Regions from separate parts of the Homo sapiens genome. Here region 2 is linked to region 1. The links come from fine-mapping of genetic effects on gene expression. A gene starts in region 1. The other region holds a variant in brackets. All regions are shown on one strand. Distances are from middle to middle. Region 1 holds the start of RPN2 (ribophorin II). Region 2 overlaps RPN2 (ribophorin II).

Region 1 (16,576 bases):
CAGCTACTCGGGAGGCGGAGGTAGGAGGATCACTTGAGCCCAGGAGGTTGAGACTGCAGTGAGCTGAGATCACACCATGGCACTCCACCCTGGGTGAGAAAGAGAGACCCTGTCTCAAAAAAATAAAAGACAGCTGGGCACAGTAGCTCACGCCTGTAATCCCAGCACTTTGGGAGGCCGAGGTGGGCGGATCACTTGAAGTCAGGAGTTCAAGACCAGCCTGGCCAACATGGTGAAACCCTGTCTCTACTAAAAAGACAAAAATTAGCCAGGTGTGATGGTGGGTGCCTGTAATCCAAACTACTTGGGAGGCTGAGGCAGGAGAATCACTTAAACCCAGGAGGCGGAAGTTGCAGTGAGCCGAGATCGCACCACTGCACTCCAGCCTGGGTGACAGAGTGAGACTCCATCTCAAAAAAATAAAAATAAATAAATAAAATTAAATTAAAAAAAGAAAAAATCTATCACGTGGTGTATTCATCAAATGTATACTGAGCTACTATGTGCCACACACTACTTTAGGTGTTAAAAATACAGCAGGAAACAAAAGAAACAAAACTCCCACCCTCAAAGAGCTTCTATTCTAGTGACAAAAGACATCACATGAAATAACATTATTTATCACATTACAAAGTAAGTGCTATGGAAAAAAATAAAGTACAGAAGAGATATTTGGGAAGGGCTGCATTTTAAATACGGTAGTCTATGAAGGACTAAGAAATAAACATATTGAGTACAGATCTGAAGAAGAAGCAAGTCATAAAGATATCTGGTGGGAAACTATGCTAAGAAGAAAAACCCAATATGGCCAGGCGCAGTGGCTCACACCTCTAACCCCAGCACTTTGGGAGGCCAAGGCAGGGGGATCACCTGAGGTCGGGAGTTCAAGACAAACCTGGCCAACATGGTGAAACCCCATGTCTACTAAAAATACAAAACATGAGCCGCACATGGTGACTTGGCCTGTAATCCCAGCTACTAGGGAGGCTGAAGCACGAGAATCACTTGATCTGGGAAGCAGAGTGGGCAGTGAGCTGAGATCGTGCCACTGCACTCCAGCCTGGGGCTCTGTCTCAAAAAAAAAAAAAAAAAAGAAAAGAAAAACCAAATGCAAACATTCTGAATCAGGAGTATGTACACATACAGTGTTTTTTGAGATCAGCAAGGACAGTACAGCTTGAGTGGAATAAGCAAAGGGTAAGAAGTAGATGAGGTAACAGAGGTAGCAGAGGACAAATCCAGAGGGCCTTGTATACCACCGTAGTGGAAGCCACTGGAAAGTTCTTTTTTTTTTTTTTAGACAGAGTCTCGCTCTGTTGCCAGGCTGGAGTGCAGTGGCGCGATCTCGGCTCACTGCAGCCTCCGCCTCCCGGGTTCAAGCGATTCTCCTGCCTCAGCCTCCCAAGTAGCTAGGACTACAGGCACGTGCCACCATGCCCAGCTAATTTTTGTCTTTTTAGTAGAGACGGGGTTTCACCATGTTGGCCAGGATGGTCTTGATCTCTTGACCTCGTGATCCGCCCGCCTCAGCCTCCCAAAGTGCTGGGATTACAGGCGTGAGCTACCGCACCCGGCTGGAGACCACTGGAAAGTTCTAAGCAGAGGAGTGATTTGACTTACACTCTAATGGTATTACTGTGTTGAGAATAAACAATACTGTGTGGAGAACAGACCATGCAGGTGCAAGGACAGAGCAGGGGACACCAGTTGGGAGACTACCGCCATAATCCAAGCCAGAAGATGATGGTGGCCCAAACCAGGGCAACAGCAGTGAACATGATGAGAAGTGATGAGAGTTAGTCTGGCTAGAATTCAAAGTCAAAGCCTATCAGAAACTGCTAATGGACAGAAAGACCTAAGAGAGAGCGGAGTCAAGATACTAATGCTGAATCCCCAATGCCTTGTGCACAGGCGGGTACCCAATATATGAAGATCTAGTGAATGGCTGCGACTAGCATTTTCCCACCTAGACCGTAAATTCCCCTAAAACAGCACCTGTGTCAGAATCCTAATCTTCTCACTCCATGTTAACGAGAGCAGTAACTTTTCTGACTAAAAGTTGAGCACTTAATATGTTAGGTATGCCCACGCTATGCTGTGCTTTGCACACACCAAATCATTAAATCCTCACAACATCTAAGCAAGGTGGCTATTTTCTGCATTTCACAGACCAGGAAAGTAAGGCTCAGAAGTAGTTACCTGCCCTAGGACACATCACTGAAAATCAAACTTCAGGCAATTTGAATCCAAAGTCTGCTTTTAACCACTTTACTATCCTGAACTTCTCAAATAATGAAACGGTGAGCCACTGACTCATTCATGTGTCACCCTGGGCAAGTAAGTTCCCTTCCGTGGGATTCCAACTTCTCATCTGTCAAATGGTAGTAACAAGAGTACATGCTTCCAAAGTTACGATGAGGCTACATGAAATTCCACCCTGCACAGCGTCTACTCAGTAACTTCCAATGCAGTTAACTTAGTTCTTACCTAGGGCCATGCACTGTTCTAAACTAAGCACGAAGATTATTTCACTTAATAAAGCAACTCAACGAGGCAGATAACGTGACTAATTTGACTAACTTATTTTACAGATGAGAAACTGAGGTGTAGAGGGGTTAAGTAACCTGCTTTGGGTTACACAATGAATACGTGGCCGACTGCAAGTTTGCACCTAGAGTGTCACTTGAGAACTTATGCTCCAGGCTCCCAGAGAGAAGTGAGGGTTTTCTTTGCCCCTTTCACTGAATGGGAAACTACAGCACAAAGAAGGACAATCTGCCCAAAACCTCACACGGAGTAAGGGGCAGCGCCGGGACCAGAACCTTAGGCCGCCTGGCCCAGAAGCCCGCGCGAGTGAAATGAATGAGGCCAGACCTAGGCTAAGCGCGTCCGCGGTCCCCACGGCTGAGCCTCGGGGCGACCCGTAGCTCCGCGCTGCACCCCTCCCCCAGGCACCAACCCCGCCAGGTCGCGGGCACTCCCACCAGCTCGCAGCCCTCCTTCGGACCCTCGATCCGAGAGCGCCCCAGCCAGAGCTTGTGCCCATGCCCCTGTCCCGCAGGGGAAGGGGATCCCGCCTGGCCGGCTCTCGAGCGGCGACTAGTAACCTCCCGCGGGCGACAGCCCTCTCCCCAAAGCCACGCGCAACTCCTCACCCGGCGGCGCCATTCCTCCGAGCAGGTCCCGCCGGAGTCCGAGCCGCGGGCTGACTTCCGCTCGGGAAAGTGGCTCCAAGAGCCCGCCACAGGGGACGCCAGGGACTCGCGGCAGGCTCTGCGGGCCAGGATGAGTTCTAAGCACAGGTCAGTGTCCGCGGCCCCGCTGAGCTTCGACGCTTCCAGCAGCCGCGGCCGGGATCCCAGTCCTCCCGCTCACAGGGCCTTGCAGTTCCCGAGGACAGACCCGCCTCTCCCCCGCGCCCAGGCCCACTTGGAACCGACCGTCTCGCAACGCTCCTATTCCGGGAGCTACCGGGACGCGGTTGGGCCAGGCCTCGGGGTGGGCCCGAGACGGGGCCGCTTCTGATTGGCCTGTCTGCTGTCACTCACTCGTCTTTCTGCTGCCCGGCCCATTTTAAAGGAACAGGAAGGGTCTCGTCGGGAGGGGATAGCTTAGAAGGGATTTTTTTTTCCTCTTTAGAAAATTGTGGCAGTTTCTGGCCGGGCGCAGTGGCTCACGCCTGTAATCCCAGAACTTTGGGAGGCCGAGGCGGGCGGATTACCTGAGGTGAGGAGTTCGAGATCAGCCTGGGCAACACGGTGAAACCCCGTCTCTACTAAAAATACAAAATTAGCCGGGCGTGGTCACACATGCCTGTAATCCCAGCTACTCGGGAGCCTGAGGCAGGAGAATCGCTTGGACCTGGGAGGCGGAGGATGCGGTGAGCCAAGATCGCGCCATTGCACTCCAGCCTGGGCAACGAGTAAATCTCCGTCTCACCAAAAAAAAAAGAAAAAGAAAATTATGTCAGTTTTTTCCAAAGATTATCAGTGGGGTTGTTAATAACTGACCTACGAGTGACGTTTTATCTGATTTGCAGAGCAATGCAGTGACTCATAGAGAACATATTAGGCCAGTTTTACAGGCTCAACATGGAGGTGGCTCATCCAGGAACACCGCTCTAATAACTAGCGCCAACTACTGAATGTTTACAGTATAACCCGACACTGTGCCGAACGCTCTACAAGCATTATTTCTTTTCTTTCCTTTTTTATTGATACGGGATCTTGCTCTGTCGCCCAGGCTGGAGTGCAGTGGTGCGATCACAGCTTACTGCAGCCTCGACATCCTGGGCTCAAGCAATCTTCCCTCCCGCCTCAGCCTCCGGAGTAGCTGGGACTGCTGCCTTGCGACACCACGCCCAGCTAATCTTTAAAATTATTTTTGGTAGATACCGCGTCTCGCTTTGTTGCCCAGGCTGGTCTGGAACTCGGGCTCAAAGGATCCTTCGGCCTTAGCCTCCCAAAGTGCTGAGATTACAGGCTAATCCCATTTTAAAGAGAAGGAAACAGATTTGAACCTAGGCAGCTGACTCCAGAATCTGTGCTTTTAACTACAGTTTTATGAACATATAAAGTATGCACAATATAACTCTTATTAACGTTATTATTGTCCCAAATGTTATCCCGCATGGGAGAGAGTCAGTTCTTTCTGTGTCTGTTATGATAGCCACTAGCCTTATGTGGATATTTAAATTTGAATTTAAATGGATTAAAATTAAGTAAAATTTAAAATTCAGTCTCTCATTTGTACTAGCCACATTTCAAGTGCTCAGTAGCCACAGATAACTAGTGGATATCAGATTGGACCACTCAAAATTATAGGACATCTTCATTATTGCAGAAAGTTCCATTGGGCAGTGCTGATGTAGAATATATAAAGAATTCTCCCAGCTCAAGAATAAGACAACCAACCAGTGGTGTGCTGGAGCTGTCTCATACTATCTTGAGAGTCCATTGTTAAATTTGCAGTAATTTTGCAAATTGGTTAAATACAGCCATTTAGAAAATTATATCAATTTAGGATGAAATAAAGTATATTGAAAACAAAACTCATTATTTTCTAATTATTTCACTACATTTTACGTTTTGTGTGCTTTTGTGGTTGCTTATATCTGTTGTAACTGTGTGGTGGAAATATATGACAGTATGCCATTGAACATCTCTTCCCAAGGTAGTATTGGTAGCTTGATTTTGGCCATGATGGGAGTATTTACACCACAGACTTAGCATATGCAGCCAGGAATGGTGGCTCAGTCTGTAATCCCAGAGCTTTTGGGAGGCTGAGGTAGGAGGATCACTTGAGTCCAGGAATTCGAGACCCACCTGGGCAACACAGCAAGACCTGCCTCTACAAAAAAAAAATTTTGATTAGCCAGGTGTGGTGGCTCGCATCTGTGGTCCTAGTGACTAGCTGTGGACCACAGATGGGAGCCACCACACCTGACTAATGAAAAAGAAAAAGACCAACAATAGCAAATGTTGGCAAGGATGTGGAGCAACAGGATCTCTCATATCCTGCTGATGGAAATGTAAAGTGGTACGACCATTTTGGAAACAGATTGACAGCTTCTTCGTTGTTTGTTTGTTTGTTTTGAGACAAAGTCTCCCTCTGTCACCCAGGCTGGAGTGCAATGGCACAATCTCAGTTCACTGCAACTTCCATCTCCTGGGTTCAAGCGATTCTCGTGTCTCAGCCTCCCGAGTAGCTGGGATTACAGGCGCGCGCCACACTGCCTGGCTGAATTTTTTTGTATTTTTAGTAGAGACGGGGTTTCACCATGTTGGCCAGGCTGGTCTCAAACTCCTGACCTCAAGTGATCCACTCACCTCAGCCTCCCAAAGTGCTGGGATTACAGGCGTGAGCCACTGGCGGTGGTTGTTTTTTACGAGGCAAGGTCTCCATCTGTCGCTCAGGCTGGAATACAGTGATGGAATCATAGCTCACTGCCGCCTTCACCTCCTGGACTCTAGGACCCTCTTGCCTTGGCTTCCTGAGTAACTGGGACTACAGGCACATGCCACCACCCCCAGCTAATTTTTTGTAGAGATCGGATTTTGCTATGTTACCCAGGCTTGTCTCAAACTCTTGGTATCAGGCAATCCTTTCGCCTTAGCCTCCCAAAGGCAATGGGAATACAGGCGTGAGACACAACACGTGGCCAGGCAGCATCTTAAGAAGTCAGTTACACAATCTACCACACAACCCAACCATTCTGCTCCTAGAGGGTTTCTTTGTTTTTAATGAACTCATTTTTTATTAAAGAAATATATGCATACAGGACAGAGTTCAAACTTTATTGGTTTGGGGTGTCCTTCCAAAATTGTTTTATTGGCTGGGCGCCGTGGCTCATGCCTGTGATCCCCACACTTCGGGAGGCCAAAGTGGGCAGATCACCTGAGGTCAGGAGTTTGAGACCAGCCTGGCCAACATGACGAAACCCTGTCTCTACTAAAAATATAAAAATTAGCCGGGCGTGGTGGCAGGCACCTGTAATCCCAGCTACTCAGAAGGCTGAGGCATGAGAATCACGTGAACCCAGGAGGCAGAGAGGTTGCAGTGAGCTGAGATTGCACCACTGCACTTCAGCCTGAGCGACAAAGTGAGACTCTGTGTCAAAAAAAATAAAAATTAAAAATAATAAATAATTTTAAAAAATGAATTCCGTAAGTTGTGTTTTTGTTTCTTCTAGAGACAAGTTCTCTCTGTCAGTCAAGCTGGAGTGCAGTGGTGCCATCATAGCTTAAACTCTGCAGTCTTAAACTCCTGGGCTTAAGGGATCATCTTGCCTCAGCCTCCTGAGTAGCTAGGACTACAGGCACATGCCACCACACCTAGCTAATTTTTTACTTTTTTTTTCTTTTTTTTGAGATGGAGTCTCGCTCTGTCGCCTGGGCTGGAGTACAGTGGTGCAACCTCGGCTTACTGCAAGCTCCACCTCCCGGGTTCACGCCATTCTCCTGCCTCAGCCTCCCGAGTAGCTGGGACTACAGGCGCCCGCCACCGTGCCCGGCTAATTTTTTTGTTTTTTTTTTTTTTAGTAGAGATGGGGTTTCACCCTGTTAGCCAGGATGGTCTCAATCTCCTGAACTCATGATCCGCCCTCCTCAGCCTCCCAAAGTGCTGGGATTACAGGTATGAGCCACCGCTCCTGGCCAATTTTTTACTTTTTTGTAGAGATGAGGTCTCACCGTGTTGCCCAGGCTAGTCTCGAAGTCCTGAGCTCAAGCAGTCCTCCCACTTCAACCTCCCAAAATGCTGAGATTACAGAGTGAGCCACCATACCCAGCCTCCATAAGTTTTTTTTCATGTATGCCAACATTTGTGTGTGTGTGTTTCTGTGTGTATACACATATACTTATACTTTTGTGAAAATAGTTTTGTTTTAATGAAAAATGTCATATCCATTGTTTGACAGCTTGCTTTTTCTTTCATGAATCTATGCTAAACATTCAGTAAATAGAGACCTGCTCAATCATTTACTCTGCCAATAATTGTTGAGCACTTCTGTATGTCACTGTTCTAGACTCCTGGGATACATTCATGAACAAAGCAGCCAAAGATTCTTGCCCTCATGAAGCTTACATTTTAGCAGGAGGAAATAAATGACAATGAACATCATAAACAAGTGAAAGATATATTGGAAGGTGTTACGTGCTATGGTAAAAAGAAAAAGTAGGAAAGGGTAAGGAAGATAGAGGGAGTTTGGTGAGGTGTTCTACCTCAATCTGGTTTTTTTGATGGGTTTGTTTGTTTTTTGAGATGGAGTCTTGCTATGTCACCCAGGCTGGAGTGCAGTGGCACAATCTCGGCTCACTACAACCTCCACCTCCCAGTTGAAGTGATTCTCCTGCCTTAGTGTCCCGAGTAGCTGGGATTACAGGCATGTGCCACCATGCCCGGCTATTTTTTGTATTTTTAGTAGAGACCAGGTTTTGCCATGTTGGCCAGGCTGGTCTTGAACTCCTGATCTCAGGTGATCTGCCCGCCTCAGCCTCCCAAAGTGCTGAGATTACAGGCGTGAGCCACCTGCACCCAGCATTGTTTTTAACAGCAGCATAGTATTTCTTACCTATCCATTCACTCCTAATGAGACTGACAACATGCTAGGTAGGTATTGGGGATACAAATGTGACCATGTAGACGAGGGTTCTCTCTAATGGAGTTTATAGTCTGATAGGAGACAGTCAAACAAATAAACCAAATGAGCAAGGTAATTGTAGGTGGTGGTTAAATACCATGAAAAAAATAAGAAGGTAACTGTGGGGCCAGGATGGTGGGAGCTACTTAATCTAGATTGGTGATGAATAAATGCCTCTCTCAGAAAGTGACATTGAGGCTTTCAAATAAATGATGAGACAGAAGCAGTCCTGGAAAACTAATTTTTCGCATCTCCTCTTTATTCCTAGGATCTGTAGTCAGGAAGAAGTAGTGATCCCCTGTGCCTATGACAGTGATTCAGAAAGTGTGGATTTGGAGCTGAGCAACTTAGAGATTATTAAAAAAGGCTCAAGTAGCATTGAACTGACAGGTAAAAAGGAGAAAGGACTAGAAAGGGGAGGGGAGGGGAAAAGAGAATGTATTTTCAACTCAGGCCAAGAGGTATTGATTGAGTACTTGCTGGGTGACCAGCCCTTGACTAGACTTTGATGATGAATTTGGTCCCTGACTTTGAGACCTTGAAATACAGTTGGCAAAATGAGATACATGGTTCGTGATGTCCAGGAAACTAAGGTTGGTCCTGAGACAGTTCTGCAGAAGAGTGTGAGTGCTTGAGGGATTCTGAGGAGGGAAAGGGCAGTGTGGGATACCTTGGAGTGGGAGGACTTTATGCAGAAGGTAAGATCTGGATTGGGCTTCAGAATAACTTTCATTCTACAAAACATGTATTGAGTACCAGGAGCTGGGAATACAACAGTAGACATGACCAACATGGTCACTGCCCTCATAGAACTTACATTATTGTGCAGAAAAGAGACCAAAAAGAGTAAACAGTCACTGAAGTAACTACAACTTGTAGTAAGCAGTATGGAAGAACAGGCTGAGACAAAAATAAGGGCAATAGGAACCTACTTGAAACTCTGGTTGTCAGAGAACACCTGTATGAGACCATGAGTGCTATTTAAATCTAAAGGAGGCTTGAAAGATGTGAGAGTAACTCATGTGAGTATAGGGAGTACTACAGATAGATGGGGACAGCATGTGCATGACACAGGAAAGATCCTGGTGTGTTTGAAGCTACCTTCATTCATTCATACATTCATTCAGCAAATACTTAATGAAGCCCTCCTGTGCTCTAAGCTTAATCTAGCAGCTGGAGATATAGCATCGAACAGAACAGACACAGTATACCTACGGATGAACAGGCAAATGGAACTCAGTGCAATCAGTGTGATGGGGGTGGGAGAGCCAGAGTGGATACAGAGCGGTTTATTAGTGACTTGGGGATACTTAGCCAAAATAGGCAAAAAGGGCATACACGAAAGGCATCCTGGAGCTGAGACTTGAAGGATGAGTAGGAGTTAGCAAGGCAAAGATAGGTAAGGGAAGGTGGGGGAGAAGAAGGAGAAAAATGCAGGCAGAAGGAACAGCCTGTGCACAGATCAGAATGAGAACATGGCTTCAATTATTGCAATTAGTGGATGATAGGAATATGGCAGGAAGTGGGTAGAGTTTACTGAAGAGGCATTCAAGAAATCAAAAAGAATGCAAAAGTAGAGTGGTGGCCGGGCACGGTGGCTCACATCTGTAATCCCAGCATTTTGGGAGGCTGAGGCGGGTGGATCACCTGAGGTCAGGAGTTCGAGACCTTGCTTGGCCAACATAGCGAAATCCCATCTCTACTAAAAATACGAAAATTACCTGGGGGTGGTGGCGTGTGCCTGTAATTCCAGCTACTTGGGAATCTGAGGCACAAGAATCGCTTGAACCCAGGAGGCAGAGGTTGTAGTGAGCCAAGATCGCGCCACTGTACTCCAGCCTGAGCGACAGAGTGAGACTCTTGTCTCAAAAAAAAAAAAAAAAGAATGGTAAAAATCTTCAGATGAAAGATGTGTTAAGGGGGAAATACTTCTGGGATCAGTTCTTTGCATGTATTACCTCATTTAATTCTTATAATAACCCTGTTTTACAGAAAAGGAAACTTAGGTTTCAGGAGGCAAACTAGCTTGATAAAGGTCATACAAATAGTAAGTGGTAGAGCCAAGATTCAAACTAGTCTCAAATTGAGATTTAAAGTCCATAGTCTTAACCATTCTGCTACAGCTCAGTCCCAAAGGTTTTTTGTAGCTTAGGAGGCCCTTAGAGAACATTGAATTTATTTTTGAGAAAACTGAGTCTAGGAGACAGGATGGGACTTGGTTAAGGTCATAGAGCAAGTAGTAAAGGTGAGCCAGAGGTACTCCATACTAAACCTTATCACTTTACACAGTACGGAGGCATCATCCAGTGTCTTTCTTTCAATGTTAGACTTGGACATCCCTGACATCCCTGGACTCCATTGTGAGCCCCTGTCACATAGCCCCAGACACCTGACCCAACAGGACCCGCTCAGTGAGGCCATTGTTGAGAAACTGATCCAGTCCATCCAGAAGGTTTTCAATGGTGAGCTAAAGGTATGCACAAGCAATTTTTATGAGTTATCCAACTTATTCCTCCATTTTAACAAATATTTTAAACATATTATTTCTTGATTATACAAATAATTTTATATTATAGGTTATAAAACATGTTTGTTTTATATTTATAATACATATATTTACATATATTTATAAATTATACTTACATATATAATTATGAAATTAATGTAAAAACAAAGAAAACCATAATAAAAATTAAAAGCTAATCTTCCCTAATTCCAGTCTCAAATAACTACTGCTGACATTTTGGTTTATATTTTTTTAGACTTTTTTTTTTTTTTTTTCTGAGACAGTGTCTCACTCTGTCGCCCAGGCTGGAGTGCAGTGGCACAATCTCAGCTCACTGCAACCTCTGCCTCCCGGGTTCAAGTGATTCTCCTGCCTCAGCCTCCTGAGTAGCTGGGATTACAGGCACGTGCCACCATTGCCCAGCTAATTTTTGTATTTTTAGTAGACATGGGTTTCACCATGTTGACCAAGCAGGTCTTGAACTCTTGACCTCAAGCAATCCACATGCCTTGGCCTCCCAAAGTGCTGGGATTACAGGCATGAGCCGCTGTGCCTGGTCCTCTATGGCTTTTAAATCCCATTCACCCAATCAACAAGTAATGAATGAACAGCTACCATTTATAAGGCACTATGCTAGACGCAGGGAAGAAGTTGGAGTAGTAAGATTAAAGACTATTCACAGATAAACAAACTGGGCCACAAACAGACCGAGACCCTGTCTCAAAAAATATAATACTATTCAGCAATTAAAGGAGGGAACTATCGATACAACAGCAAAGATGAATCGCAGAGGCATTGTGTTGAGTGAAAGAAACCAATCAGAAAAGGTTACAGACTGTATGATTCCAGTTGTGTGACATTCTTGAAAAGACAAAACATGGTGATGCAGAACAGATTAGTGATTCCTAGGCATTAGGGTGGGGAGAGGATGTGACTAAAAAGGGATAGCAGGAGAGAAATTTAGGGGATGGTGGAACTGTTCGTATCCTGATTGTGGTGATGGTTACACATGTGTATGTGTGTGTTATAACACATGGAACCACATGCTTCCTGCCGAAATCAGTTTTACTGTATGATACATTTTTAAAAATCATGTTGTCACTTTGTACCGCATAAATATATACAACCATAATTTGTCAATTTACCAAAACACACACAAAACACACACATACACATACACACAAAACCACACAGAGCCTCCACTGGAAGGAGGATGAGGGAAACTTCAGGAATGCTAGTAATAATCTGTTGCTGGCTACAGGGTGTTTTTTGGTTTGTGAAAATCCACCAAACTGTACATTTTCTTTATGTAGAATACCAATGAAAAATAAAAATAAAACATTTAAAGCCAACATGTTGGCCTTCACTTTTGACTTCAGCTAATCCTTATACTTCATATCAGCATGGTTTTCTTTCGATTTCTTTGTAGTTAATGAAGGGCTTGGATTGCTGCCATGAATTGAAACAAAAAAGCCCATTACCTGCCTTGAGCTGATTCCACAGTCAGTCAGGGAAATAGATTAATAAGAAGGTCATTATGTCAGAGTATCGCAAGTGCTGTGATAGCAATTTATTCATGTGGTTTGTAGATACACTTAGAAAGGACACTGGACCAGCCAGGCGCAGTGGCTCACACCTGTAATCCCAGCACTTTGGTAGGCCAAGGTGGGCAGATCACGAGGTCAGGAGTTCAACACCAGCCTGGCTAACATGGTGAAACCCCCATCTCTACTAAAGATACAAAAAATTAGCCGGGCATGGTGGCAGGTGCCTGTAATCCCAGCTACTTGGGAGGCTGAGACAGGAGAATAGCTTGAACCTGGGAGGCGGAGGTTGCAGTGAGCCAAGATCATGCCATTGCACTCCAGCCTGGGCAACAGGGTGAGACTCTGTCTCAAAAGAAAAAAAAGAAAGGACACTGGACCCTGCTTCAGGAGCAAACGCATTCTCCAAGTCTTAAGATATATAGAGATTTTTTTTTTCTTTTTTGAGACAGAGTCTTGCTCTGTCACCCAAGCTATAGTTCAGTGGCGCGATTTTGGCTCATTGCAACCTCCGTCTCCCAGGTTCAAGCACACCTATAGTCCCAACTACTCAGGAGGCTGAAGTACAAGGATCCCATGAGCCCAGGAGATGTAGACTGCAGTGAGTGGTGATCACGCCACTGCACTCCAGCCTGGATGACAGAGCAAGACCCTGTCTTAAAAAAAAAAAAAAGGTTCTATGATAAATAGGAATTTTATATATATATGTATGTATGTATAATTAGAAAAGAGGCCGGGTGCAGTGGCTCACGCCTGTAATCCCAGCATTTTGGGAGGCCAAGGCAGGCAGATCATCTGAGGTCAGGAGTTCGAGACCAGCCTGGCCAAGATGATAAAACCCCATCTCTACTAAAAATACAAAAATTAGCTTGGTGTGGTGGTGCATGCCTGTAGTCCCAGCTACTTGGGAGGCTGTGGCAGGAGAATCACTTGAACCCAGGTGTACCACTGCAGTCCAGCCTGGGTGACAGAGCGAGACTCCATCTCAAAAAAAAAAAAAAAAAAAGAAAAAGAAAAAGAGAGGCCAGGCATGGTGGTTCTCACCTGTCATCCCGTCATCCCAGCACTTTGGGAAGCCAAGGCAGGTGGATCACTTGAGCTCAGGAGTTTGAGACCAGCCTGGGCAACATAATACAAATAATTAGCTGGACGTGGTGGTGCGTGCCTGTGGTCCCAGCTAGTTGGGAGGCTGAGGCGGGAGGATTGCTTGAGCCCAGGAGGTTGAGGTTGCAGTGAGCTGAGATCGTGCCACTGCACTCCAGCCTGGGTGACAGAGCGAGACTCCATGTCAAAAAAATAATAATAATAATAGTAATAATAAAATAAAAAAGAAAAAGAGAATGTTAGTACTGAGAGATTTTATTCTTCCAATCAGAACTTGGATTTTAATAGGAAATTTTAAAAGCAAAATAATGAATTTTTAATGACATTGAAAGAACTAGAAGTAACAGAATCAGAGAGGTCACCTTTAGGAAGCTTTTTTTTTTTTGAGATGGGATCTCACTCTGTCACCCAGGCTGGAGTGCAGCGGCACCATCTCAGCTCACTGCAACCTCCGCTTCCCAGGTTCAAGTGATTCTCGTGCCTCAGCCTCCCAAGTAGCTGGGACTACAGGCACAGGCACGCGCCACCACGCCTGGCTACTTTTTTGTATTTTTAGTAGAGACAGGGTTTCACCATGTTGGCCATGCTGGTCTGGAACTCCTGACCTCAGGTGATCTGTCCACCTCGGCCTCCTAAAGTGCTGGGATTACAGGCATGAGCCACCATGCCCAGCCTAGGAAGCTTAATCAGGCAACACTACACAGGACAGGCAGGTAGAAAAGCAAAGACTAAGAGTGGGGAAAGCCAGGATGGAACATGGAGCTGAGAGGAGAGCCGAGGTCTCAAAGCAAGGCAGGGCCAGCGGACAAGGAATTTCACTGAAATCTTCCGTAATTTACTCATTCTTTGTAATAAAAGACTGATATTGGGTTGAAAGAGATGTCAGATATTTAAAGCATTCCAAGAAACTTTTCAAAAACTCTCCACAGTTATTCAAATAAGATTATGACATATAATTGTATTTTTATCATTTTCCCACAAATTCAGGGTGAACTTGAAAAGCTGAAATTCCTAGGAGATCTGTCTTCTCTCAGCCAAGCTTTACCTTATGATGAAACCGCAAAATCATTCATTCACAGCCACATAGCAGACATTGTGCATACCTTAAATGTAAGTATTATGACCTTATCACAAATGATTGGGATCACACAAATTCAGTGACTTGGCCAAAGCATTTTTTAGTGGCTTCACCTATGTTATCAATTCACTTGAACTCTTCTAGTATCAGTATCTCCACATGGAGGAGAAATACTCATGGCCACCCCACACATGTAATCACCCTTGAAAACCAATTAAAAGAAGAGTAGAAAGGACAGGAACAGCATTTGAATTTCTCAGCAAGGCCAACGCTACATTCTCATGACTCAAGCAGTAGTTCCCAGACAGTCCCCATAATCGTATGCCTAGGTTCAGGGGACAGCCCTGCCTTTTTATAGCTGTGAAACTGTAGGAAATTACTTCACTTCTCAATGCCTCAGTTTCCTCCCCTATAAAACAAGAATAGCTATATCTACTTCACAGAGCTATTGTGACCATTAAATTCAAAATAAATATAAGCCATGTCCATGGTACCTAATACACACGAGCCACTTGAGAAACATGACTATATTATTGTTATCGTATTTTGTTCTATTTGTACTTACTCCAGCCACACTCTGCCACCAACTCATCCATTCATTCCCTCATTAAGTGCCTGACAGTTCCAGGAACTGTCTTGGGAATTTGGGCTACAAAGACAAAGAAGACAAAATCCCTATTTATGCAGCCAAGCAAGGTATAATAAAATGTCACAGGAACTGTGACAAGTTTAAATAGGCATATGGGGGGCTGAGAGTAGAGATTGAGTGGTCAGTTCCATGGCAAAGGATCCAGAAGGGCATTGCAAAGGAGCTGATGCACTCAAGCAAGTACTTCTTGGTGTTTTAGTTTTCTCATCTGTGAAATGTCTCCTTCAGTTTCTCTAAAGCTTTAAAATTCTGATGTTGAAATTTCTTACATACTCCAGAAATATGAGTAGTTCTTTCTCATATCACAGATCTATAAGGCTGATTAGACTGATAGCTTTTATAATTCAAGGCTAACCAGCTAACAGTTTTAAGTAATGGACAGTTACCAAGGATCTTCTATATCCAAACACACTGTGGTGCTTTGATAAAGGTTACGCATTTCCTGGAAACCTTAATCCTTGCCCTTGAAGGGTTTAGGATCCATCTGTAAGTAGCCATATTTCAAAAAGTAAATAGGTTGAGAACTATTCCAAATAATACATTAAGAAGAACAGGATGATATAATACAGGTTTAACAACAAAAAGCGGCGGCTCACATGTGTAATTCCAGCACTCTGGGAGGCCGAGGTGGGCGAATCACTTGCGGTCAGGAGATTGAGATCAGCCTGGCCAACATGGTGAAACCCCGTCTCTACTAAAAATACAAAAAATAGCCGGGCATGGTGGCAGGCGCCTGTAATCACAGCTTCTCCTGAGGCAGGAGAATTGCTTGAACCTGGGAGGTGGAGGTTGCAGTGAGCTGAGATGACACAACTGCACTCCAGCCTGGGCAACAGAGTGAGACTCTGTCTCAAAAAAGAAACAAACAAACAAGCAAATAAAAAAACAGTTTGAGACCAGTTTGGGCAATGTGGTAAAACTCAATCTCTTAAAAAAAAAAAAAAAATTAGCCGGATGTGGTGGTGCATGCCTGTAGTCCCAGCTACTCGGGAGGCTAAGGTGGGAGGATCAGCTGAGTCCAGGAGACAGAGATTGCAGTGAGCCGAGATCAAGCCACTCTATTCCAGCCTGGGTGACAGAGTGACACCCCATCTCAAAACAAAAACAAAAACAAACAGAAAACAAATGCAGCTTTCTACTTGGCTGTACTCCTTGGGAAAGGGGATGTAGGCAACCGCAGGATCATAGGACCCAGCCAGAGTGGCATGTTTCTAGAGCTCTAGTTTCACCAAACTTGGCAACAATGGGTTGCCACATGGTTCAACCAGCCAGTCCATAAAATCCACAAATGCAGGTCTCAACAGCAACAATGTACTGAATTACACACTGAATCTGCATTTGCATCTGTCCACCCAGTAATAAAATGCCCACATCAGATGTCAATCAAAGTATAGGCTGGCAGGGGATTCAGCCTAGAAGAGTTAAAGGTAGCTAGTATCCATGAGAAAATTGCATGGATCACTGCAGCATTGTGTAAGTCTACAAAGTCCCCACAGGCCCACACATGGGGGCTGAAAAAGCACAGCTCCCAGCAACCAAAGGGAGAGGTGCCCAA
Region 2 (8,000 bases), 49 kb before region 1:
GGGGAGACCGGATGCCAGATCTCCTTCCTATCACAATCAAGTGCAGGCAGCTGCCAAGTTCATCACCAAAATGCCACCTCCACCTGGAAGGTCTCTAGGCCATGATTCTACAGCAGAATTCTGGATGAGACAAGTATTCAGTGAAAGTTACACTTCCTCACTAACTCTCCTTGCTCTAATCCTAATCCTACTAGTTTAGTCTTTTACTTTCTTCTCTTTGTACTCTTCCTTCCCTTGTGCTATTTGGTTGGCAAATGTCATTCTGGGAAGAAGCTGGGAAATGCTAAGAGGCTGAAGTACTCAAAGGTCAGTTAGGCTTGGCTAAGGGCCCTAACCAAGCTGTCTGGAGTTTGGGAGTAGGGAGGAGAGAGGAGCAGAGGACTCCCAGGACTGTGGCCATAGAGGAACGTGCTCCTGGGGCACAAGTCCAACAGCTGCAGCTGCAAGAAACAGAAAGCAAGAAGGTTCTCAAGTAAATCCAGTTGCCTCTGAGGTCTGCCCTGAAGCTGCCTCAAGGCAACAAGTCTGCTGGTCCTTGCTAAAGCATCGGTACAGGGTACCCCATACCAAACTAGGTCCCGCATTCCTGTCTTTCAGCATTCAAAGTATTTATCTGAATCTTCCTTCACGTAACACTAAAGGCAGGTTATTCTCCATCAAGGGGGATGACAGGCAGTGTGGGAGTGGGGGTATCTGAGTGGACATGGGGCCATATTAGGTTCTCAGGGGAAAGAGTATATGGTTTGAAAATCTTTTAAATAATAATTTTCATTACTCTATGAAAAAAATAAAGCCTATTGCTTTCATAATACAAAGTAAGCACAAGTTAAAAGGGCTATTCTTCAGAGTCCCACAAATACAAAATCTGCTTTGGCTAGAATAAAAAAATGCTTTGGGTCTTCTTTTGAAATTATTTCAGTATATTCCCTTATTTATTTATACATACATACATACACACAAATGAGGTCTCACCATATTGCCCAAGCTGGTCTCCAACTCCTGGGCTCAAGTGATCCTCCTACCTCTGCCTCCAAAGTGTTGGGATTACAGGCGTGAGCCACCATGCCTGGCCAGCACATTCCCTTTTTTAAATCAGAAAGAAAAAGCCTCGAGTCTAGTGCCATGCTTATAATCCCACCACTTTGGGAGGCTGAGGCAGGCGGATCACCTGAGGTCAGGAGATGAGAACAGCCTGGCCAACATGGTGAAACCCTGTCTCTGCTAAAAATACAAAAATTAGCTGGGCATGGTAATGCATGCCTGTATCCCAGCTACTTGGGAGGCTGAGGTAGGAGAATCGCTTGAACCTAGGAGGCAGAGGTTGCAGTGAGCTGAGATCACACCACTGCACTCCATCCTGGGTGACAGAGCAAGAGTCCATCTGAGGGAGGGAGGGAGGAAGGAATGACCTTAATTAAGTGCAAATCTGCCTTAAGTACCTCTCCTCAATACCAGCTAACTTTTTAGAAAGAAGGGTGTATCCCAGGTAAAGGACTACAACCAGTAGAAGGGTGAGAGTGTCATGTGGGAGAACCTGATGGACTGTCAGGGTTCGGTCAAAACCTGAAAGCAGGAACGTGGAATTCTCTCTAGTCCATGTTATAGACCACATTGTAAACTCTAGTATCCATTCACATTTCAGGTTAAGAGAACTGTCTAGGTGTCTTCCTGACCTGGTGAGGAGTGAGTTCAGCACCAGTGTTCACATCTACCAGCTGGAAGAACAAGGCGAAGTTCTGGTGGCTGTCTGCGATGAATGTGCCCTTGGCTTTGGCTGGGTATGTCACCCTGAAAGAGGCATATAGAGTTAGTCTTCAGAGAGGATCAGTATATCTCTGAGAACAGGCAGAAAATATATACTTCACTTCATTGCCTCAACCACCCTCTCCCATAGTAACACTTCTGTTGTGGACAGACAGATGTGGAGAACTGTCTGCAACCTGGGGGCAAATTGGACTGATAAAGCCTGGACTGAGAAAAGTGCAGAATAAACTTCCAGCAGGATCTGGGGAAATGCTGTGTACAGATGCTTGTACCTCTGGGCTTTCACTTCAAGGACCTAAGGCTCTCAACTCCAACAAAGTCAGGCACCAGAGGAGCTCACGTGTGGCCTCTGCAGGCACACAGGAGAGCCGGGCTGGCAGAACCGCAAGGAGAAATAATTACAGGATTGATGCCAGCAGCACACGTGAGCAAAATCGAGACAAGGCAGGTAGGAGACACAAAAGAAAGAAGGGTACTTTCAGCTTTGTCTTTTTTTAATGCTATATTTTTTTCCTGGACACTGTTTCAATTTAGTTTTCTGCCCTGAAACTGGGTTTTAAAAAGTCATTTTCCCAAAAGGCAGACTTGATGAGGAAAACTTCTTTTCACAGCTATCTCCTGGGATTTTAGGGTAAGATGGCCAGGGGATAAACCAGCCAAATGGTTACAGAGCTCAGACCTGGCTTTATTTTATACTCACATTTTACATTTACTCGTAAGTAAGACCAACTCTTCATCTAGGCAGAGAATTAAACAGCAAAGCGCTCGCACAGACATTTCTTCAGTGGATTCTTAAACAGTGCTCTTATCTCCAATATCACTACAAAAATAGCCAACCCAGAGACACAAAGGCCAACTCTATGTGATTTAAAAGGAGTAGCTGCTTGGCTTCCAGCCTCTGGCTAACATCCCATCTTCAAAGAGCCTTGATGGTTCACCCTACTGTCTTCTGGCCTCTATAGCTACCCTAGTTGAGTAAAGTTGGGGTCTGGACTATACCCCAGAAATCTAGATCCCCGCTGAGCCAATAAGGATCTGGGGGAGGGCTGATGAGCAGGCTTCTTACAGCATTCTGGCCCAACTCTGTTCAATTGTTAGTGTCTACTTAGAAGATTATGTTTCAAAAAAAGATTCTGAGGCTGTGTCTGAGTTCAGTGGGAGCAAATGTTCTATGACTTCTTAGTACTGCCTCCATGGACTTGGGAGGGGGAAATGGCAGCCCTAGTGCTGGGTATCTGCCATCTCAATTTTAAGCACGTGTGAGGCTTCCAACTAATTTCAGACCCATCATAGGCCAGAGAGACTTGCCATTAGGTCACTAAAAGCAAATTCAGGACTGTGATGATAAGGAGATCGCACCAGAATGTAAATTAATACCTTGCTTCCTTCATTGAGAAGGTCTTATTATTTTAAAAATTATCATCTGAACTAAATAATATGCTTAGTGACATAGCTGACTGACTCAGACTAACATCCTGAGGTAAGCGCTTTACCTCGTTGAGGACTGGTTAATAAATAGTTTGTGCATGGACTAAACACTGGTATATACAATCTCCAAATCCACTTAGATAATTCGCAGAATCCCCGGTGCAGGACCAGTGGAACTACAGACTCTTTAATTTAGGATGTAAGCTGGATGGCTGCTGACACAGAACTGATGCCTGCAGGGCTCAGTGCCTAGGCATACTCCTCTCAGCTCTTGAGCCTCAGCTCCCTGAGTGATCAGGTGGCATCTCACCTACCGGGTAGTTTTGGGTGCAATGCTCTGATCCTTATCCACGGTGGAAAGATCAACATTTGTGATGCCAACTTCAGTGGAGATCTTGACTCTGAGCTAGAGGAAAATAGAGAAGACAGTTGCCAGGTCAATTGGTGGGTGTTCAGGAATTCACATGCAGATATAAAGTTTTCTATTCTTTAAGGTGAGTAAAGGCATGAAAAAATCCTAGAACAAGAGTCTTCAAGGATGATAATAACACTGACCCAGCCCAGTAATATTTCCAACCTCTCCCATTCCGAGGCCTAAAATGTCTTTTTCTGGCTTTGGATGGATGGTAAACATCAAAAAAAAAAAAAGAAGAAGAAAAAGGAAAAGAAAAAAAGTAAATCTTTTCATGTGTCCTTTAAAATAAATAAGGGGAAAAATCCTTAAGCAGTACCTTTCATTCAAATCAGCAAGAATTGGGTTCTAATGATAGCTAGGATTTATTGAGTGCTTACCATGTGAAAGGCACTGGCTTTGTAAAGACTATCTCATTTAATCCTCACAATTCTGTAAGGTACTGCTTTTCAGATAAGGAAATAAAAGATGAGAGAGATGAAGCTGCTTTGCTCAAAATCAGACTGTGAGGAAGTGATCAGGCCAGTGTCAAGCTCAGGCACTCTGACTCAGAATCCATGCACTTCAGCTCCTTGTTAGACAGTCATGGTAGTTATCTGTACTGTTGCCCAAGTACTTCTCATTCTCCTTCTGAGCATGTGGTAGAATTCTACTTCCCTGCCCCCATGGAGTCAAGTGTGGCCACATGATTTGCTCTGGCCAATGAAATGTGGGCAGAAGTGAAAGCTTTAAGAATCAATGTGTGATTCTCTCTTTTCCTCTGACATGGACACAATGTCCAGATGCTTGCTCCTTCAGCCAGGGTCCTGGAGCAAAGATATCATGAAGCAGAGCCTCCAGTTGACCACCTAAAGAATCTAGCGTGGGGAAAAAATAAACCCTCATTGTTTTAAGCCACTGAGATTGGGAGTTTGTTATAAGCACAAACCAATCCATGTTGACTCTTAAAGTGTTTGAATTCTGTATGTCCCTTAAACATCTTCACAAAGAGGGGCTAATGCCAATAAATGAGAAATTTTAAAATTAGATTAAAATCAATGTAAATATCCAAAAGAGACAGAAAACATGTTAAATTTCTGAATTAAAACCCAAGTTTGAATGTGCAAATTATGCAAACCCAAGGCGCTTTTATGTGCAAACAGATCT[G/A]TAAGCCTTCCAAATATTTGATAGGTTTGAATGTAACACTTAAGGAAATCCTTGCCAAATCCACTGGTTTATAGTCTAAGTCAGGATCAAGGAATAGAGATAACGGGCTGGGCAAATAATTGAAGGATAGCTCTGGCAGTTTTCTGAAATACCATATCGAGGTGTGACAACCTCAAATCAAGGGCAAAGAAGAAAAATTAAAAATAAAGATACCTATCAAGTAATTCCTTCTAACGGCCTTCTTTCCTGCCTCTGTAATAACTATTTTATGACAACAGCCTCAATTATCATGTTGAATAGGGGTGTTGTTTTGCTTTAAAAAAAAAAACTGTAAAGGTTTATTACCAGAAGCTGTAAGGATATTACCATCTACTTTTGAATTCACAGCCACCTATGAATTCATAGCAGAACTATATTTAGGATCATTGCCTGTCATTGAGTCTAGGCAACTGGGTGAAATTATGGCAGTGGAGGAGGAGGGACGATGGCCCATCAGGTTGAATAGACACCCCCAAGAAGGGAGCTAGGAGCCTCACTTTGGCTCTTTGGGCTCTCTGCTGAGTTAACAGCGTTACAACTCACGCAAGGCTCAGAACCAGAGCAAGCTTTCTTGCAAAAAACACAACCCGACAAGTACTGACATCATTTCCACTGGAAAACAAACTGGAATGGAAGGCTCAGGCAAAGAAGTAGCCACAGAGCTTTGATTTGACACCTGCTGAGAGCACTTTCCCCATTCAGGGAATATACAGAGATGGCAAGAAATCCTTCCTGTCCCGTACACAAACCATAATTATAATAAACCAGGTTGCTGCTTTAATGGATGTACAAAGTGTTATGAAAGCACAGAAGGAACTGTGACCCAAGTCTGCCCATGGGTGGCCCCAAATGGGGAGTAGGAAACATTCCATAGCAAGAAGACTGAGGAGGAGGCTTGATGGGCTTAGCAGCCCTCCAATTTTGGGAGAGGTAGGAGGATTAGCAATAATACTCCATGCTATAAAAATAATCTGTCTTCAGAGTTAACTACTCTGCAATCTTCATCAAGATTAACTAGGTAATTCCCTATTTCTCTAACTCATTCTCTTAAGAACTCATTCATTTAATCTGTAAATGTGATCTTGAAATCATCATCCTACTGAAATGTCCATAAACAGAAGACTAGCTAAATAAAGAAAGATACATGCATATTATTAATTACTATGGAGCAATTAAAAAGAACAGACTAGGCCGGGCGTGGTGGCTCACGCCTGTAATCCCAACACTTTGGGAGGCCGAGGCAGGAGGACCATTTGAGGTCAGGAGTTTGAGACCAGCATGACCAACATGGCAAAACCCTGTCTCTACTAAAAATACAAAAAAATTAGCCAGACATGGTGATGCACGCCTGTAGTCCCAGCTACTCAGGAGGCTGAGACAGGAAAATGGCTTGAACCCAGGAGGCAGAGGTTGCAGTGAGCCAAGATCATGCCACTGCACTCCAGCCTGGGCAATAGGGCAAGGCTCCGCCTCAAAAAAAAAAAAAAAAAAGAATTGTGTAAAGTCTTCAGTGTCTCCTAATGATAGTGATAAGGAAGCTATCAGCTTTTAGGTTTTCACTTAGAATCCTGGCTGTAAACTCTCAGCACTAACTGGCCACCAAGGCCAGCTAATCAGGATCCAGCTTCGTGTGTGTTCTAAAGACATCCTGAGCATCCCCAGACAATGCAGATACATGGAGTGAGCAAAGGGCAAACTGCAGTGAACTTGCATCATTCTTGGTTTGCTCTCAGCCCCAATTTTAAAAGGTTTCCTAAGTTACAGCTTTCATTGTTGCACATAAACACCCGTAGGGCTGTTCCTAAATAGGGAACAGTTTAAAACAAATCCTTCTGCTCCTAAAATCTCACTATAAATGGGTCTCTGGAAACACTCAAAAGCAAAGCATTTTTATGCTACTCTTTTAAAGCAAATTTAGAAATAAAAATCGTAACTTTTTCCAAAGCCCTCTTTTAAAGAGTTCAGTGTAGGATCCCTGTTGATTAGCTGCTTCTTCCTTCCAACTAACAATGCAGGATTCGTTTTTATAATAGGAAAGGGACTTATTTCTCCACTTTAAATGCAGCTAAGCCTGCTTTACACTGGATCATGCTATTCCTTTCTTTGCCTGCACCACATGCCATATACATCTCAAAAAATGTTTTAACGCCAGGAAATGCAGTCTTTCTGCTGGGAGTAATAACACCCCTGTTTAGCTTATTACTGTCAAAAATGATGGTGCATTAGGGGCAATTAATGCTAATGAGAGCGTCCAAAACCGATGCTTCCCCTGACAGCCAGTCCAATGTCAATGAGGGCTATTACAGGACTTCCACACCAAACCACCGTTAATGCACTCTGACCAATGTCGAGCATTTCTTGGGAGGACAAACAGGACCCAATGACCTGCTCTGAGGCTCTAAGTGTGATTATTACTGAAATTACAAAGAAAAGTTGCATATACGGCAAAGGTCAAAGCCGACTCTCTCTCTCTCTCACACTCACACACACACACACACACACAAACACACACACCTCTAATGTAATAAGGAGGAAGAGAGAAGATTTTGTAATGCTTACTCCATCACTAGGGAGGAAAAGGAGAGTAAATGGCCTCAATGGGGGCTTATTATCATTGCATGAACAAGAGCTATTAGCCATTTCTGCTATTTTGTACTTAGATAATTTTTCCAACAATCACAGAAACACTTGGACAAACACCAGATTTGATGTTACAAAATGCCAAGCTGTTACAGTAATCAAGACAGCGTGGCACTGGCATAAGGACAATACAGATTAATGAAATAGAATTATGAGTCCAGAAATCAACCCTTACATTTATTGTCAAGTGATTCCTACAAGGATGTATGTGCCAAGGCAATTCGTTAGGGAAAGAACAGCCTTTTCAACAAATGGGTCTAGGACAACTGCAAAAGAAGACTGGACCCCCTACATCACACCATACACAAAAATTAACTCACAATGAATCAGAAACCTAAGGGTAGGAGCCAAAAGTATAAAATTCTTTTAAGAAAACATAGTAGTAAATCTTCTTAACCTTGGATTACATAATGGCATCTTAGACATGACACCTAAAGCACAAACAACAACAACAAAACATTTTAAAACTGGACTTCATCAAAATTAAGATTTTTTGTGCCTCAAAAGACAACATCATGAAAGTGAAAATACAACCTTCAGACTGTGAGAAAATATTTGCAAATCATGTATT

The links. PIP is the estimated chance that this variant, and not a neighbour inherited with it, causes the effect.
Region 2: its variant is fine-mapped to the expression of RPN2 in whole blood (INTERVAL, PIP 0.90).

Annotation. Positions count from the first base shown.
Region 1 is chr20:37,165,949-37,182,524 of GRCh38, reverse strand. It overlaps RPN2 (ribophorin II), which reads right to left and starts at 3,195. Exons shown (of 17, transcript NM_002951.5): 1 at 3,156-3,195. The coding sequence starts at 3,168. MROH8 (maestro heat like repeat family member 8) reads left to right here and starts at 2,977. Exons shown (of 25, transcript NM_152503.8): 1 at 2,977-3,136; 2 at 3,138-3,302; 3 at 8,409-8,530; 4 at 10,468-10,613; 5 at 14,282-14,404. The coding sequence starts at 3,045. It also overlaps the pseudogene LOC100419562. RefSeq lists a silencer at 2,920-2,969 and enhancers at 2,520-3,077, 3,090-3,139, 3,490-3,569, 3,078-3,637.
Region 2 is chr20:37,219,476-37,227,475 of GRCh38, reverse strand. RPN2 (ribophorin II) reads right to left here. Exons shown (of 17, transcript NM_002951.5): 10 at 3,507-3,598; 11 at 1,674-1,788. Among named protein-coding and RNA genes, the nearest start is that of GHRH, 38 kb to the left of the region's middle. The variant G/A (reference allele first, on the strand shown) is at 4,751.